5 linked regions of the Homo sapiens genome follow. The protein of the gene in region 3 interacts with the protein of the main gene of each other region in a biochemical or structural test. Each region holds a gene or a part of one and is shown on either strand. Other genes may lie near its edges. The genes, in order: VEGFB, TGFBR1, NRP1, SEMA3A and TGFBR2.

Region 1 (4,109 bases), on a different chromosome or scaffold from region 3:
CCAGGCTGCAGTGCAGTGGCGCAATCTCGGCTCACTGCAACCCCACCTCTGCCTCCCAGGTTCAAGCAATTCTTCTGTCTCAGCCTCCCGAGTAGCTGGGACTACAGGCGTCCACCACCACACCCGGCTAGTTGTTTTGTATTTTTAGTAGAGATGGGGTTTCACCATATTGGCCAGGCTGGTCTCAAACTCCTGACCTCAGGTGATCCACCCGCCTCAGCCTCCCAAAGTACTGGGATTACAGGTGAGAGCTACCGCGCCTGGCCACAAAGCCGATTTTCTATAGCAGATACCTAAAGGCCAGTGCCCACTGCTAGCAGCCTGCCTAGTTCAGTGATGGAGTTAGACGCATACCCTTTCTAGTCTTCTGGGAGGAGCACCCCCATGTCCACAGCTGCTGTCACACCTCAAAGTGACCAGGGACTTCGGATGCCATTGGACCCTAGACAAGCCAGGGCCACTCTGAGCCCTCCCTATCTATCACAGGAAGGGTTAGACTGAGGTTCCTAACCCTGTGTAAGGGTAAAAAGCTGTGAGGCCCCTAGAGTGGGGTGGAAGGGGGCAGGACTTCAGGGACAGCAGGAATTGGATTCCCAGGGTTAATTGTGACCCATTGCAGGAAGGTGAAGCAGATGCACCTTAACTTCATGGATGAAAAGGATCGGATCATCACAGCCTTCTACAACGAAGCCCGGGCACGGGCCAGGTCTGTCCCTGCTCTATTCTGCTCCCTGCTCCCTGTCCAGGAACCACACTTCGGGATCCCTATCCCAACCACCCAGGTGCCCTCTCCTCCAGGGCCAACAGAGGCATCCTTCAGCAGGAGCGACAACGGCTAGGGCAGCGGCAGCCGCCACCATCCGAGCCAACCCAAGGCCCCGAGATCGTGCCCCGGGGCGCCGGCCCCTGAGGGGCTCACCTGGATGGGGCCTGCAGTGCGTTCCCGCTTTGCTTCCTTCCCTGGACGGCCCGCTCCCCGAAACGCGCGCAATAAAGTGATTCGCAGAGCTCGTGTCCGGCTCCCTCCTTAAGGCCCGACGCCCCCGGCCCCGGCCTCGCCAAGGGGCAGCGCCCCGCCCTCCGGGTAGTGGCGGCGGCGACTGGGGAGCCCAGCCTCCTGGGCGGTGCGTCCCCTTTCCCCTGCCGCGGCGGGAGGCGGGAGGGGGTGTGTGGAGGAGGCGGGCCCCGCCGACGGCCTCGCCCCCCCACCCCGCCGCCCCGCCCCCGCCCCACGGGCCGGTGGGGAGCGCGTGTCTGGGTCACATGAGCCGCCTGCCCGCCAGCCCGGGCCCAGCCCCCCGCCGCCCCCGCCGTCCCCGCCGCCGCTGCCCGCCGCCACCGGCCGCCCGCCCGCCCGGCTCCTCCGGCCGCCTCCGCTGCGCTGCGCTGCGCTGCCTGCACCCAGGGCTCGGGAGGGGGCCGCGGAGGAGTCGCCCCCCGCGCCCGGCCCCCGCCCGCCGCGCCCGGGCCCGCGCCATGGGGCTCTGGCTGTCGCCGCCCCCCGCGCCGCCGGGCTAGGGCGATGCGGGCGCCCCCGGCGGGCGGCCCCGGCGGGCACCATGAGCCCTCTGCTCCGCCGCCTGCTGCTCGCCGCACTCCTGCAGCTGGCCCCCGCCCAGGTACGTGCGGCCCGACAGCGCGCCCGCCCGCCCGCCGTGCCCTCTCTCAAGGTTGGCGGAAGTGAGGAGGCGACCCGCGGCCTCGGCCGAGGGGATCTGCGGGGTCCGGCCTTGGACGCGGGCGTCTCGGGGGCCCGGCGCGTGCATCCCCTGGGAGGTGCCCCTCCCCGCTGGCCCGCCAGCCCCAGTCTGGGGCCACTCCTCCGCCCCACCCCGTCCCCTGGGCACCGCCGGGGGCGGGGCTCCCTCGGTGCCTGCAGGACCTGCTTCGGTGGGCACTGTGCGCGCTCCTGATCTGCATGCAGCCCCCAAACATGCTCGGCTCCGCGGCCTGGAGATTTGGCGCGGCCACCAGAGCACCTGTTGCGTTTTGGGCCAGGGCAGGTCCCGGGTGGCCAGGAGAGGACAGGTAAAGCTAGAGCAGTGGCCGCAGGAACAGAGCAATCTGGAAAGATGTCAGAGAGGTGGTGAAGCCTACTGATGCAAGGGCAAAGCCCCAGGGACGGTGACAGGGCCACACCCTCCTAAAGTGTACCTTGGGTACAGGTCTTTTCTCTCCCACAGGCCCCTGTCTCCCAGCCTGATGCCCCTGGCCACCAGAGGAAAGGTAATACTTACAAAAACTCGGCACTAGCCAGCACTAAGAGGGTTTGTCATGGGCCCTGATTCCAGGTGTCCATCATCTTGTGTAACTCCCCTAGAAGATTCAAACTATTATTCTACCCATTTCACAGAGGAGGAAATTGAGGCAGTGGGGTTACTGGGATCTGGATAAACAGGGCAGGGGAAGACAGGTTGTGAGGGCAGAGTGGGGAGGGCTAGTGGAGGGTGGCTGTGACTTGGGGACTGGGGAGGACAGATGCTGGGAGCAGCTGCAGGAAAACCAGTGAGGACTTAACCCCTACCGGTCTGCTCCCAGTGGTGTCATGGATAGATGTGTATACTCGCGCTACCTGCCAGCCCCGGGAGGTGGTGGTGCCCTTGACTGTGGAGCTCATGGGCACCGTGGCCAAACAGCTGGTGCCCAGCTGCGTGACTGTGCAGCGCTGTGGTGGCTGCTGCCCTGACGATGGCCTGGAGTGTGTGCCCACTGGGCAGCACCAAGTCCGGATGCAGGTACTGGGCAGGTGGGGCAACGGGCAGGGGATGCAGGTACTGGGCAGGTGGGGCAGCGGGCAGGGTGGATGCTGGCTGGCTCTGGGGCTGGGGCAGCCTGGAGACTGATGCACAGGAGACAGGGTTGGGGGGAGGGCTGGTGGCCAGCCTCCCGGCTGTTGGGTGAGCTTTTCTCCCTTCAGTCTTAGAGCATCCCCTTTCTCTCTCTCCCTCACTGTCCCCCCTGTTCTTCTCCTGAGCACAGATCCTCATGATCCGGTACCCGAGCAGTCAGCTGGGGGAGATGTCCCTGGAAGAACACAGCCAGTGTGAATGCAGGTGCCAGCCAGGCCCAACTTCTGAGCTCGCAGAGGCCAGGCTTGGGGGGTGCTGGGTATGGTGGTCCACAGAACTGGGGACCAGGTTCCTAAGAGTAGAACCAAGGGGCCGGGCGTGGTAGCTCACGCCTGTAATCCCAGCACTTTGGGAGGCCGAGGCGGGCGGATCATGAGGTCAGGAGATCGAGACCATCCTGGCTAACATGGTAAAAACCTGTCTCTACTAAAAAAATACAAAAAATTAGCCGGGCGTGGTGGCGGGCACCTGTAGTCCCAGCTACTCCGGAGGCTGAGGCAGGAGAATGGCATGAACCTGGGAGGCGTAGCTTGCAGTGAGCCAAGATCGTGCCACTGCATTCCAGCCTGGGCGACAGAGCAAGACTCTGCCACAAAAAAAAAAAAAAAAAAAAAAAAAAAAGAGTAGAGCCAAGGGTAGGCCTTGGATCTGGGGCAACAAAGTAGGATGCTTGGGCCGGGGGTAGTGGCTCACACCTATAATCCCAGCACTTTGGGAGGCCCAGGCAGGCAGATCACCTGAGGTAAGGCGTTTGAGACCAGCCTGGCCAACATGGTGAAACCCCATCTCTACTAAAAAAAAATACAAAAATTAGCCGCGCATGGTGGCAGGTGCCTGTAATCCCAGCTACTTGGGAGGCTGAGACAAGAGAATAGCTTGAACCTGGGAGGCGGAGGTTGCAGTGAGCCGAGACCACGCCACTGCACTCCAGCCTGGGCAAGAAGAGGGAAACACAGTCTCAAAGAGAGAGAGAGAGAGAGAGAGAGAGAGAGAGAGAGAGTAGGATGCTGGGATTTCCTGATCTTCCTCTTGTTTGTCTGTGTCTGTCTATCTTACTTTTCAGACCTAAAAAAAAGGACAGTGCTGTGAAGCCAGACAGGTGAGTCTTTTGGACTCCAGCTGAGTAGGGGTATGGGGAGTACAAGTGAGTCCAGAAGCTGTTGCTCCTCTTTCTCCTCCCACCCGTCCCCCACTTTCCCTTTTCCTCTGCTCCCCAAGCCTGTGTTCTCTGCCCCGACCCCAGCTCTAGGGAAGACTCTT
Region 2 (3,517 bases), on a different chromosome or scaffold from region 3:
TACCACCAATGGAACATCGTCGAGCAATTTCCCAGAATACTAAGCCCATTGCATAGATGTCAGCACGTTTGAAGGATTCAAAATGTTTCATATTTATGGAATCATCGAGAACTTCAGGGGCCATGTACCTAAAAAAAATTTGCAAAAAGAACTTTGAAAATCATCCCCTTACTGCCATATTTGGATGAACCTCCTTTCAGACATTTCTTTATACATAGACATATGTACACAATATTACATAACAAATATTAGACTCAAGAAAAATATTAAATATCCACACTGGTTTGCACATTAATGATGTCAACTAAATCCCACAAAATGCTAAAATAGCAGTTTCACACTATCTGCCTCATGATCTTGGTTTCCAATGAAAGACATACATAACAATTGTGACTGTTAAAGGTGTCCTAATGTACACCACCTATACACGTACTAGGTAGAAACCATGCATTTTAATTTAGAAGTCTTCTCACTGAGGATGAAAGGAAGGGCACGAATATACTCCAGGGAAAAAAATAATAGATACAAAAGAATGCCAGTCCTCATACTGAAGCTTCAAAAACCTACCAAAATTATGGGTCAGGACCCACAGAGACCTACAGCAACCACTGACAAGGACCCCTTAGCTGGTTGAGAATTGAGAGTCATCTACGGCCATACCACCCTAAACACGCCCGATCTCGTCTGATCTTGGAAGCTAAGCAGGGTCGGGCCTGCTTAGTACTTGGATGGGAAAATTGAGAGTCCCCAGGGAATCCAGAAATCTCAAAATTATACATGCAATTTGAATAGACTAATGCTGCTGGCTCTCCAGCTGTCTCCAAGGCCAAGACAGTAGTTTGAAAAAATGCTGTGACAGCTTGTGATAAGGGGTTTGGGTCAGAAATGCCCAGGTTCAAATCTCAGCTCTTCGGCTTATCATCCACATGAAGCTGGCCATATTATTTAACCTCCTCAAGGTGGTTTCCTCATCTGTGAATTAAAGGGTAATAACACCTACCTAATTAAGTTCTTTTGAAGACTCATGGACTCAACAAATATCTACTGAGGATCTACCATGTATTAGGCACTGTGATGGATGCTGGGAATACAAGGCTGCTCTCAAGCAGCTTGCACCTAATAGAATATATAGGCAAATAAATAAACAGTTACAACATAACGCATAAGTGCCTCAACGGTCCCAGTTCAGTGTGCTATGACAGTCCCTGGCAGGGACTCCTAAGATTTTTGAGGACTAGAAAAAACTTCCTACGGGAAAGGTGGGTATGAGGCTGAGAAACAGTAGGGTAAAGTATGCTCCAGGAGACAGCATGTGCAAAAGTTCTAAGAAAGCAAGAAAGGCATATTTTTAGGAACTGAAATATGAAAATAGCAGGGCTAGCTACTGCACAGTATTTGAGAAGGGATTAAATGAGGTAATATACGTAAAAGACCTATTAGACGATTGGCACATAGTAGGTGCCCTATAAACGTTAGTTACTACTGTTATTATAATTAACATGCCTAATGATATTTTCTGGAAGGGCAACCTTTCATCAGCAGGCATCTTTTTAAGTCAGGTAACTCTGGCTTCAGAGCAGGCAAGACCATGAGATCTTCTTACCTGTTGGCAATCTAATAAAGTGCAAGTTTAAGCTGAGTTTCAGCAATGATATGTATATATGAAAGAGAAGGGAAAAAAGGTGATTTCAGAAGATATTAAATATAGTTGTTCAAAAGTATACCTTTTTGTTCCCACTCTGTGGTTTGGAGCAATATCAATGGTATCTGTGGCTGAATCATGTCTTACTGCCAGTCCTAAGTCTGCAATACAGCAAGTTCCATTCTTCTTTACCAAGATATTCTTTGATTTCAAATCTCTATGAGCAATGGCTGGCTTTCCTAAAGAATCAAAAATTAAACATGACTGCTTAAAAGGTAATACCAATCACAACTCACATCTTTAGGTTCAAAAGTCTCTTCTCCCAACCCAAATTATCAAAGCATTTCAGCCCACATGACCTACAATACTTACGGCATTATTAAACTCAAGTGAATCACTACACCAAAAGTCACTGAATTTATATTTCTTTAAAGAAAATGTGGACAATAACATGCTTTAAAAGATGAACAACTCAAAGACTGGGGCAAAAAAAAAGTTATCAGTTTATCTGTTGGTGCCTTATGAATTCTTTTTAAGAAACTTAGCCATAGACTGATATTCCAGCAGCCCAGGAACCAAGCATGTAGAACATCACTTCCCTATCAACTGCAATGTACTCAGTATTAAGTATATTATCTTTGATGCTAACCACTAGAAAATGTTATTAAAAAATAATAATTATAATGTGGAAAACCTGGAACCTTCATACACTGCTGGCAGGAATGTAAAATGGTTCAGGCACTTTAAGAAAATAGTATGGCAGTTCTTCAAACCATTAAATAGAGTTATCATATGATACAGTAATTCAACTCCTAGGTATATACCCAAGATAACTGAAAACATGAAACTACATACAACTTGTACACAAATGTTCACTGCAGCATTAGCTACAATGGCCAAAAGAAACAAACCAAATGTCCATCAACGAACGGATATATGACATATGCCATATCCATACACTGAAGTATTACTTAGCCATCAAAATGACTGAAGTACTCATACGTGCTACAACATAAATGAACCTTGAAAACATGCTAAGTGAAAGAAGCCAGTCACAAAAGACCACATATTGTATGATTCATTTATATAAAATGTGCAGAATAAGCAAATCTACAGACAAAAAGGAGCAGTTGTTGCCTAGGGCTAAGGAGTTTGGGAGGAAAGGGGAGTGACTGCTAGTGGCTACAGGGTTTCTCTTTGGAGTGAAGATATTCTAAAATTGACTGTAGTGTTTGCTGGCTGTACAACTCTGAGTATTCTAAAAACCACTGAATTTTACACTTTAAGTGGGTGAACTTTATGATGTGAATTATAACTCAATAAAACTGTTACAATCAATAATAATAATAACTACAAAGATGGAGCTAAGATGTGAACTAGCACTTATGCTGTATGTAAAGTGGGGAGTGGGGGAGCCATTGGGTTGCAAGTGGACAACTGCTAGAGCAGAGAGATATACTGGCATCTGAAATCCCACATGCACAAAAACTACAGCATACAAATGTCATAACTAAAACTTAGTATTTAATTTTTCAACTGTAAAACTATCTCATGCAGTCTCCTTATCTCAAGGTCAAATATAATTATTAGATGGCCAGATAACAGTTACCTAGCATGTTGATGTTTACAAAGCACTTTCACATTTCATTTGATACTACACATAAAAATATATTCAGTTGGACCTGAATTCTGAAACTGAGATCCTCAAAAATCATAAGATTGAATGCTACTTTTAAGAACTCAAAAAAAATCACAGTTTTGTTACAACGACTAGAGAATCTCTAAACAAATTTCCAGATTCCTAGCTCTACCTGAAATTTTGAACTGAAAGATAAAATGTTCTCATCTAAAAAATTTGTTTTAAATATCTCCAGT
Region 3 (3,517 bases):
ATTACCTGGTACTAGAAACGGGATGAAAATGTTAACGCACAATATGCCTGGGGTTTACTTAATGGTGTTCTGATCAACAAAGATTCCAATCAAAGAAAACTAAAAATATGAGATGCAAATCCCTAACCAAGAGAAAACAAGCCTTGGGGCATATTAATACTCTCTCCCTTGATGAAATATTGTTTTGAAACAACCTCTAATAAAGTTTACATCTCTGTGTGGACTTGGTAATGTGTTCATATTACTAACAGCAAGGTGCAATATTTATTTGTCTCTATGAAGTCCACGGCTGGCCATAGAGTAGGATCCCATTTCTAAGGGCAACAGATGCTGACATGCATTGATGATAAGGGTGCAGCACCATCCACACAGCAGCTGTGAGTGATGGTGGAGCAAGTGTCCAACAGCCCACAATGCTGGCTGGGAGATCTGGAAACTTCTGGGAATAGACTAATACCAGGCAAGGCCTAACTCTGATCAAAGGTCTTGCATTTGATCACAAAGCAGCGTTCAGCAAAAACACACATTTATAGTTCATCAGGCTAAAGTGTGAGGCTACCACCTAATTAGCTATGCTACTTAAGTTTCAGTCTCACTATCTGTAAAATGGGGACAAATACAACCCCTAGAGCTGCTGTGAGGATTAAATAAGATAAGGTATGTAGGACGGGTGCAGTGGCTCACGCCTGTAATCCCAGCACTTTAGGAGGCTGAGGCCAGGGAATTGCTTAAGCTAAGGAATTCAAGACCAGCCTGGGCAACATGGTGAAACTCCACCTTACAAAAGACAAAAAAATAAGTTGAGTGTGGTGGTGTGGGCCTGTAGTCTGCTCGGAAGGTTGAGGCAGGAAAATCGCTTGAACCTGGCAGGTGGAGGCTGCAGTGAGCTGAGATCACGCCACTGCACTCCAAGCCTGGGTGACAGAGACAGACTCTGTCTCAAGAAAAAAAGAAAAGAAAAAGATCAGGTAAGTAAAGTGCTCAGAACATACTAACTCTTCAATAAATCCTTCTTATCATCATCATCATCATCACAAAACCAAGGTTCTAGTAGAGGAAGATGGGAAAAGATGAATCAAACACAATGGATTATCTCAGAAATTGGGCTCTGGTCTCTTAAAGATCCTAGCTGGATATCAACAAACAGAAGAATTTCGGTTGGTTTCAAATAACTGTGTATGGAAATAGTCTTCACTAATTTTCTGTCTTTGTAGTGATAAACTGAGTGTGTTTGAGCTGATTATCCTTTATGTTCCACCTCTAGACTGGGCAGGGAAGGGCCAGGGTGAGCACACTTCCCAGGCTCAACCAGGTGTACAAGCAGGACCCGTCACCGAGGCTCCCCAAGTCTTATGGGCAGCTCGGAAGTGGGTACTCTGTGAGCACAATCCGATCCACAGCACCAACCCAGGGCCATGGGCATAGATGTTTTTTATTTGAACTTTTTGACATACCAGTGTATTAGAGTTCCACAAAGTTTCTTCATAAACACAATGAAAGCCATAGTAAAATTTTTTAAAAATTGGTCAGCAAGACAAATTTACCTGTTTCATCAATTTTAATTTCTGGGTTCTTTTTATCCAGGTCTGCTGGTTCTGACAAGTCAAACAAAATTGAAAGAGATATTTGAACTGCCATCAAAATATAATGCACCAAACTACACAAACCTTTAGGTACATGCACACACACACACACACACACACACACACGTGTCTACTGGGCTCCTTTTGGATTTTTTAGTTCAATCAGAAATCACCAAACAGATCAATAAAGAGGCAATGTTAAATGACCGGGAAATTGGTAATGTGACATCACAACACTGCCTTTAAGGTGCCATATCTAAATCCAGGTAGCACTGCTGCTAGCAGAATCTGTTGTTTTAGGAGACAAGGGTGGGCTGGGTATGCTGGCTCGTGCCTATAATTCCAGCACTTTGAGAGGGCAAGGCAGGAGAACCACATTAGGCTAGGAGTTTAGGACCAGCCTGGGCAACATAGTGAGATCCCATCTCTACAAAAATAAAAAAATTAGCTTTCCAGCTGCTTAGGAGGCTGAGGCGGAAGGAGAGCTTGTGCCCAGGAGATGGAGTTTACAGTGAGCCATGATGGTGCCACTGCACTCCACCCTGGGTGACGGAAGCAAGAGCCTGTCTCAAAAAAGCAAAAACAACAACAACAAATTTAAAAAAAAAAAAAAAGAAGAGAAGGGGGAAGAGACATGGTTTTGGCATCTGAAATGTGGAAAAAAATCTGGTGAATATAGGTTCTACTGAAGTAGATTCGTACATATGGTGACCATCCTATAGTTTGTAGATAACTGCTTCCTAAATTTAGTGTGCGTTAGTTTGGCTTCTCGAATAGTATGCCAACTCTTTGAGGCAAGAGACTGTGCCCTGTGTATTACAAAAATAGATAAATACATAAAATAGCTATTGAAGAAGTAGAGTTCCAGTATTCCTGTGGTACTAAGTACAGAGCAGGAATTTTTGAGTGCTTTGTCCACTGCTGTATTCCAGCATTTACAACAGTGTCTAGCACATCATAGGTGCTTTAATAGATATTTGTTCTATGTATGAATGAATGAAAGATTAATAAATAGTTGATAATCTCATAGCATCCACACCCAGATGTTCAAGGATGCATATTTGATGAATCATTGTACAATTGTCTTACACATATTTTTATTGGTAGCAGCATAAACAAATAAACAAAGTGGTTTAATGGAGCCGTAGTTGTGAATTTCCCACTACAATGTCTGGCAGCAACTACAGCTAAATGGACAAATCACAAGAAAAGAAAAAGTCCCATAGAATTGTCTCAACTATGTGCTTTCTTTTCTTTTCTCCCTTCCTTCCTTCCTTCTTTTTTCTTTTTTTTGAAATGGGGTCTTGCTCTGTGGCCTAGGCTGGAGTGCAATGGTATGACCTTGGCTCACTGCAACTTCCGCCTCCTGGGTTCAAGCAATTCTCCTGCCTCAGCCTTCCGAGTAGCTGGGATTACTACAGCTGCGTGCCACCACGCCCAGCTAATTTTTGTATTTTTTAGTAGAGATGGGGTTTTGCCATGTTGGCCAGGCTGGTCCTAAACTCCTGATCTCAAATGATCCTCCTGCCTCGGCCTCCCAAAGTGCTGGGATGACAGACGTGAGCCACTGCACCCGGCTCAGCCATGTACTTTCACTGGAGCATCCGCATGCTGCTTTGCATATGGTATGTAGTCAGTTAGAACTTGTTGAACCGAATTGAATTTCGTTAGAACTTGTTGAACTGAATTTAATTTCGTTTCTTTGTTTTAGTCTGTGGAGTTTGTTCTCACATCCCAAAACATCACCATCATCACTCTCACTTTGGAATGGAGAAGTGAAGAAATCACAGACACTGTGTTACTACATGAAATACACATTTTTACAGCAGTGTAGATATGGATGTGGGTAATTTGTAAAGGAGTTGCAACTAAACTATTAAGCCTTATCATTCTTGTGAAGATTTGCTAAATAGTGCAGCACTAAGCAGATTCCC
Region 4 (3,517 bases), on a different chromosome or scaffold from region 3:
TTAAATTAATTTAGAAAATAATAAATATGTTTTACATGCACAGAAAGCTGACAGTGTAGACAGATGAAAAATTTTTGCTCTCTACTTCAAACTCAGCTAGATTTTTAATTTAAAAAATGTTTTCCCCTTTTTTGTCATCACTTTGACAGTTTTACTCTTGTCATAATCAACTGAATACCTTTGACTGTCATAGCTGATGATTTGCTCTCACTAGGTTTAAAGCCTTCAAAAATGCTACTCCCATACAATCCCTGTACAAGGCCTGTGTCTATCATCTCCTACCCTCATCATACCCTACCTACTTCATTCCACCTTCTACCTTCAATTGCTGTCTACAGAGGTGTCAACCTCAGTGCCTGTTTCTCAAATGCCCTAGGTGTGAAACAAAACTCTTCCAATATTGGGAATTATCTGTCTCTTATTGAAAAGATCAATGCCCTGGAAATAGGAAAATAAATCAGAAATGATTGCAATGTAAAGAAATAATATTTAACTGATTCCAAGTCACATTTAAAAAAAATTGGACATGCATATCTTCATGTGCCAATATCTATATTGTATAGGCTGTTTTTTTTTCCCCTCTGAGATTATTAGTGCGTCTTGAATTGAATGCATATGGAACATGTTGCTATACTCATTTGTAAGATAGCTGCTTCCTGGGATACAGGTGAATTTAATTGCTATGGCCAACAGGGGCTGGAAAATCTGTAATTCAGGAGCTACCTGAATAATTAGAATGCATTGTCACAGAAGTTAATGCTATTTACATTGAATACTTTTTTTTCTAACTGTTCTGTGATTTAAACTTTTTTGTATTTTTTTTTTTTTGTATTTTTAGTAGAGATGGGGTTTCGCCATTTTAGCCAGCATGGTCCCGATCTCCTGACCTCGTGATCCGCCCGCCTCGGCCTCCCAAAGTGCTGGGATTACAGGCATGAGCCACCGCGTCCGGCCCGTTTAAACTTTTCTTTATTAAGAAATACTTTTAGGAGGAGACCTTTCATTCAATCTCTATATATGAATGAATTATATATGACATCAAAATATAGAAAAATCCACTGGATTTAGAAACAAACAACCCAGTGATCTGCCAGCATCTCCTTTATCAACAGCCATGTCTCCTAGGTCTATTTTCCCAGGTAGAAATTTATAACTGCAACTGACTTGTCTCTTGCATAATCTGCTAAAGCTACTAAAGAAAACTATGGTATAAATTACTACTCTCAAAGATAGAATTTCATATAAATCCTTCAATACATTAATTGACTCAGATAAGAGGAGTCACGTAACTAGTATAATAGAAAATAAAAGTGTTTCAATACCAATGTAACACCAATGGGTGCATATATATATATATATATATATATATATATATATATATATTTTTTTTTTTTTTTTTTTTTTTTTTTTTTTTGAGACGGAGTCTTACTCTGTCTCCCAGGCTGGAGTTCAGTGGTGCGATCTCGGCTCACTGCAAGCTCCGCCTCCCGGGTTCATGCCATTCTCCTGCCTCAGCCTCCCAAGTAGCTGGGACTACAGGTGCCTGCCACCACGCCCAGCTAGTTTTTCGTATTTTAATAGAGGCAGGGTTTCAACGTGTTAGCCAGGATGGTCTCGATCTCCTGACCTCGTGATCCGCCCACCTCAGCCTCCCAAAGTGCTGGGATTACAGGTGTGAGCCACCGCGCCCAGCCACCAATGGGTGCATTAAAAAAAAATCACTTAGTTGTCTTCTTTCTAACTAATTTAATCATTCTAGTTAGTCCACAGAGATAATTTTCTGGTAATCTTTCTTGTAGTTCTAGGTAACTGCTCAGTTTTCATTTCCTCTTCAGGACATCCTCTGGTGGTGGCAAGCTTTTTCCAATGTACCAGAAAACATGTAAAAATAGTTCTTTCAATAGAAAATATTCTTTTATTAAAAAATTATTTCATTTGATCTGCTACTTCTTCATAGTGGAATCTAGACTATAGACTATAGTCTTATAGACTTATAGACTATAAGATGGTGTTTGATTTAGCAATTATGATAACAAATTGTTTTTAGTTTAATATACTAATATTTCACTCTCTTCAAGAAACATTCTGATATTCAGGTACTTTCTCACCTAAATAAGGCAAGAACCACAATAGGTTAATTTGGTTTATGAGCTTGGTGCCCTTAGTAAGTTTGCTTTGATAACTACTCTTGCCAGTACCTCAAAGTCTCATTATTTCCCAAGTTTACCCTTTCTTTCCCCTTTTTGTCCAACAAAAAGAAACAGAATCATCCAGCTAGTGACCGGTGAGGCTAAAAGCCCTGTCATGTTAACTATCAATCACGATCAAGATACAGCGATACTATTGTATTTCTTTGGTTTAAGATTCTCCTATTTTATATTTTGTTAGGTTCTGCTGCGATCAGCAATAATTATTAAAAGTAAATTTTTTTTCTTTTTTTTTTTGAGACGGAGTTTCCCTATTGTTGCCCAGGCTGGAGTGCAATGGCGTGATCTCGGCTCACGGCAACCTCCGCCTCCCGGGTTCAAGCGATTCTCCTGCCTCAGACTCCCTAGTAGCTGGGATTACAGGCATGCGCCACCACGCCCAGCTAATTTTGTATTTTTAGTAGAGACAGGGTTTCTCCATGTTGGTTAGGCTGGTCTTGAACTCCCGACCTCAGGTGATTCGCCCGCCTCGGCCTCTCAAAGTGCTGGGATTACAGGCATGAGCCACCGCGCCCGGCCAAAAGTAAATTTTTATTGGATACAGTTATTTCTATTAAGTCTTCTGCCACAGGATGTTTCTACCATCAGCAGCTTCTGACTTAGGAACAGAACTTTTATTTAAAATGGCCTCAGCCAAGCACCCATCTATTTGGGTGTTCAGAAGTAAAAAATTTTCTGTTAATTTCCCCTAACCTGACATCTTATAAACAGATACCTAATCAATATTTTAAAATAATAATTAGAAGGCATTCAATAAATATCCTTTCCATTTCCTGAGTGCTCTACCGCAACCACTGGCATAAATTTTGTACAATATAGGAAACATTAGAAATCCATTAACAATGTGTTCTATCTCCCTCCAGCCCCCTTCTCTCCCCAGCTCCAGAAAAAAGTACGAACAGAAATAATATTTCGGTTCCTATCTTATAACCTTATTAAGTTCTTCACTTTTTCTTGGGATGTCAAACATACTGTCAATTTTGCCGGGCATGGTGGCTCACGCCTGTAATCCCAGCACTTTGGAAGGCTGAGGTGGACGGATCACTTGAGGTCTAGGGTTCAAGAACGGCCTGGCCAACATGGTGAAACCCCATTTCTACAAAAATACAAAAAATTAGTGGGGCATAATGGCGGGTACCTACAATCCCAGCTACTCTGGAGGCTGAGGCAGGAGAAGCGCTTGAATCTGGGAAGCGGAGGTTGCAGTGAGCCAAGATCGACCCATTGCACTCTAGCCTGGGTGACAGAGCAAGACTCAGTCTCAAAACAAACAAACAAAAAACTATCAATTTTAAAAATTTTGTTTTGTT
Region 5 (3,517 bases), on a different chromosome or scaffold from region 3:
ACTTGTTTTCTAATACCAACAACTTTCCAAACACACCTAGGAGCCTATCTCTCCCTCCCCACCCGATGAGTTCATGATGTTAAATTAATTGCATAATTCACCTAATTGACAGTATTGACAGATGGCCCTGTTAAGAGTAGAGTGCTATTGTTGGTACACAAGTAACATTTATTTTATTCTGGCACTGTAATTACAGGCAGTAAATTAAATTAAATATTAAGCATTAACTTGAAATCAATAGGGCAACAAATCTCATTATGAGAAAAAATGTATTATGCAAATTCTTTTCAGAATTTTATCATCATGAATAATGGCATCATTACGAGAACTATACAGCAGAGGAGGCAACAGAGTTTGAAAGAAACATAACACTCCAGCACATTCTGATTTCAGAATTTATGCAAAATATTCTTACAGTTTTAGTGTCAAAGAGGATTTGCTCAAAACTCCAGAGAAGCCTGTGACCCACCACAGCCTGGTTCCCCCTCGCCAACCTCCTCGGACTTTATTAAGGTCTGTCTGCTGAAGTGGCTCTGGGCCAGGACTGGCACAGACCAGACTTCCTGCTCCATTTGTCTTCCCGATTGTGCCTGATTTGTTGTTTCTGTTTCTTATCTGAATTTGCCTTGCCCTTAGGGAAACCAACAACTTAGCCTCGGCCTTCATGGTTGAGGGAATTCATCCAAAAGAGGCAATAAAAGGTTTTAGTCAGTAGAAAGAACAGTCTTCTCAGTGAGATAGGGCCACACTGTTCTCTCTCATTCTTCACTAAGGGCTCCTTCCTGGGTGTGTCAGACATATAGCTGGTTCTGACTCACTCACAACCTATCGTTTTCTTTTTTCTCTGACCATTGCCCTCATCAAAGTGCCCCCAAACAAACAATTTGGATCAGCCTCTTTATGAGTCCAGAATGACTGCCCTGCTATGGACAGCCTTAGCTAGCATTTCTTAACAAGGAAAAATAAGAGGCCATTAGGATGTTCCCAACAGACAGATTTCTCGTTCCTTCCAGGGCATTCTCCTCTTCTTTGCTTTCCTTAATTCCAGAGTGAGGAGTCGGTCTCCTCTTTCCCACGCGTGCTCACTCAGGCCTCTCCCAAGTCTGTGAGCACAGCCTGCAAACACCTGTACACAGCCTTCTGCATGCCACAGTCACTTCTCACTACAGCTGCCTGACAAACCCTGCTTGTTTTGCATCTGCTAAGTATTTCCTTATGGAGCTGAAGATTCCCAGAAGAAAACATTTGGAATCCAGAGGGAATCAAATATAAACTCCTGACGTGAAGGCCCAGGAGTAAGTAGCAGAGGCTGCAAACAAAATGTTTTAACCCAGGACCAAGGGGGCTTGGAAAATGTGGCAAATGTCCTCCGAATGGCTATTTGTGAACTCTCAGAGTACATATCAGCTGGTTGGAGCCTATAATAATTGGGTTATCCACTGTATTGAAATTTGCTTTATAAACAAAATTTAACAGGGCCATAGAACACAATGGGACCTTCCCTCAGATTTAAGCTCAATATTCCAGAATTCTCTGCCACCTAAGAGGCAACTTGGTTGAATCTTACTGACCTTTGTAAACACTCACTCCTTACCTGGTGGTTGAGCCAGAAGCTGGGAATTTCTGGTCGCCCTCGATCTCTCAACACGTTGTCCTTCATGCTTTCGACACAGGGGTGCTCCCGCACCTTGGAACCAAATGGAGGCTCATAATCTTTTACTTCTGTGAAGAAAGCCAGCAAACACAGGGTCACTGAGAATGGCATGTGCAGCCAAAGGAAATGAGCATGGTGAGATGCCTGGCTGGGGAGCATGAAGCACTAAGTAACAAATACATACGTAATTACTCTAAGAGCAAATTTTAATAATAATGGCTAAGATAAGAAGGAAGGAGTGGTTGGGGAAGGGCTAGAGAAGTATTCAATAAATGATTGTTGAGTACTTAAAATGTGCTAGGTGTTACGCTGGGGGACACAGTGGACAACAAGATAGAGAGGGTCACGGAGCTTAGGTTTTAACACAGGCATTTTCTACAGGGGGATATTGCAGCAAAAGGGTGAAACTGGTTCTTGGGAAGTGGAAAAATCTTATGTATTACAATGGTTTGTGAGCCTCCAAAGGCCCAGAGTATACAAAGAGATTTAAAATGTGGTATTAAATTTCATGTAGGTATTGAGGCATAAAAAGGAATGAAACTCTGGCACATGCTACAACATGGATGAATCTTGAAGACATTATGCTAAGTGAAATAAGCCAGACACAAAAGGACAAATATTGTATCATTCCACTTGTATGAAGTACCTTGTACAGGTATATTCAGAGACAGTATAATGGTGGTTGTCCAGGGGGCAACCTGGGAGGAAAGGGTACGAAAAGTTATCCTTTAAGGGGTAAAGAATTTCAGTTGAGCAAATTTCAGTACAGAAAAATGAATAATGGTGATGGTTGTAGAGCACTGCGAAGGTACTTAATGCCAGTAAACTGTACACTTAAAAATGGTTAAGATGGTACATTTTATATTATGCCTATTTTGCTACAGAAAAACATCATGGAGAGTAGTGTTTAGAAAAAAAGTTGTCTACAGGCCAGGTGCTGTGGCTCATGTGTGTAATCCCAGCACTTTAGGAGGCTGAAGGAGGATATCTTGACTCCGGGAGTTTGAGACCAACCTGGGCAACATAGCGAGATCCTCTATCTATACAAAATAAAAAACAAAACAAGCAAACAAAAAAAGTTGTTTAAAAAGGCTCCTTACGATATCACTGATTTTAAAAAAGGTTGAGAAATGCTGTTTTAGTGGGAAGACAGAGGGGACAGATTAACAACATCAACAAAATTTTAAAACGATAATTTTCCTCTGATGGTATATTCAATAAAGAAAATGATAAAGGAGGAGGTAACCCTTCACCGGGGCCTCAGGCTTCAACTAAGGTCAAATTCTTTATAAAAACTTCCTTGAACATCCTTAGGGTCAATCTTGGTTAGATATCCTGGGCAGGGCTCTATTCGTGCATATACCATATTTTATTTAATATATTCACCTGCTTATTTTTCTCACCTAACTGGACTGTGAGCATTTGGGTGCAAGTTGAGTCCCTTTCTCATTCTTGTATTCTTGGTGCCAATTGCAAGGGTCTCCCATGCCAACAGGCTGTCAACAAATGCTTTGTTGAGTGAGTGAATGAATGAATGAATGAATGAATCTTAGATTCTCTCCAAAGTGGCAGTGCATAAACTCTGGCCAAACATTAAAACAAAACACCAATTTAAATGAGCAGATTAATATAGTGTAAACAGAGCACAGGACACTTAAAAAGATAGAAAACATCCCAGTACTAAAACATGCCTGGGCTGAAAGGAGAGATTGGGCTGGATTCAACACTGTTCTCCAAAGTAAGTAGGATCTTTGGCCTTTAGCTTCAAAATAATCTTATTTAATGAGTAAAACTTTCAATACATTTGCACTTCTAGGTAACGAATTGAAGAAGCTTTCATGGCAAGATGACATTTTGAAAAGG

What was found.
Region 1: the proteins of NRP1 (region 3) and VEGFB form a complex in vitro, tested with the Homo sapiens proteins (one study listed by BioGRID).
Region 2: the proteins of NRP1 (region 3) and TGFBR1 form a complex in vitro, tested with the Homo sapiens proteins (one study listed by BioGRID).
Region 4: the proteins of NRP1 (region 3) and SEMA3A form a complex in vitro, tested with the Homo sapiens proteins (one study listed by BioGRID).
Region 5: the proteins of NRP1 (region 3) and TGFBR2 form a complex in vitro, tested with the Homo sapiens proteins (one study listed by BioGRID).

What each region holds. Positions count from the first base shown.
Region 1 is NC_000011.10:64,233,275-64,237,383, forward strand, and holds the start of VEGFB (vascular endothelial growth factor B isoform VEGFB-186 precursor), read left to right. Parts: upstream 1-1,309; 5' UTR 1,310-1,559; coding exon 1,560-1,619; intron 1,620-2,183; coding exon 2,184-2,226; intron 2,227-2,538; coding exon 2,539-2,735; intron 2,736-2,979; coding exon 2,980-3,053; intron 3,054-3,912; coding exon 3,913-3,948; intron 3,949-4,109. Other genes in the region: DNAJC4 (dnaJ homolog subfamily C member 4), read left to right, coding at 620-839. UniProt on the Homo sapiens protein: Growth factor for endothelial cells. VEGF-B167 binds heparin and neuropilin-1 whereas the binding to neuropilin-1 of VEGF-B186 is regulated by proteolysis.
Region 2 is NC_000009.12:99,143,096-99,146,612, reverse strand, and holds part of TGFBR1 (TGF-beta receptor type-1 isoform 1 precursor), read right to left. Parts: intron 1,882-3,517; coding exon 1,725-1,881; intron 1,117-1,724; exon of another isoform or gene 1,001-1,116; intron 129-1,000; coding exon 4-128; intron 1-3. UniProt on the Homo sapiens protein: Transmembrane serine/threonine kinase forming with the TGF-beta type II serine/threonine kinase receptor, TGFBR2, the non-promiscuous receptor for the TGF-beta cytokines TGFB1, TGFB2 and TGFB3.
Region 3 is NC_000010.11:33,181,154-33,184,670, forward strand, and holds part of NRP1 (neuropilin-1 isoform a precursor), read right to left. Parts: intron 1,596-3,517; coding exon 1,545-1,595; intron 1-1,544. UniProt on the Homo sapiens protein: Cell-surface receptor involved in the development of the cardiovascular system, in angiogenesis, in the formation of certain neuronal circuits and in organogenesis outside the nervous system. Mediates the chemorepulsant activity of semaphorins.
Region 4 is NC_000007.14:83,964,285-83,967,801, forward strand, and holds part of SEMA3A (semaphorin-3A precursor), read right to left. Parts: intron 1-3,517. UniProt on the Homo sapiens protein: Involved in the development of the olfactory system and in neuronal control of puberty. Induces the collapse and paralysis of neuronal growth cones. Could serve as a ligand that guides specific growth cones by a motility-inhibiting mechanism.
Region 5 is NC_000003.12:30,686,589-30,690,105, reverse strand, and holds part of TGFBR2 (TGF-beta receptor type-2 isoform B precursor), read right to left. Parts: intron 1,723-3,517; coding exon 1,595-1,722; intron 1-1,594. UniProt on the Homo sapiens protein: Transmembrane serine/threonine kinase forming with the TGF-beta type I serine/threonine kinase receptor, TGFBR1, the non-promiscuous receptor for the TGF-beta cytokines TGFB1, TGFB2 and TGFB3.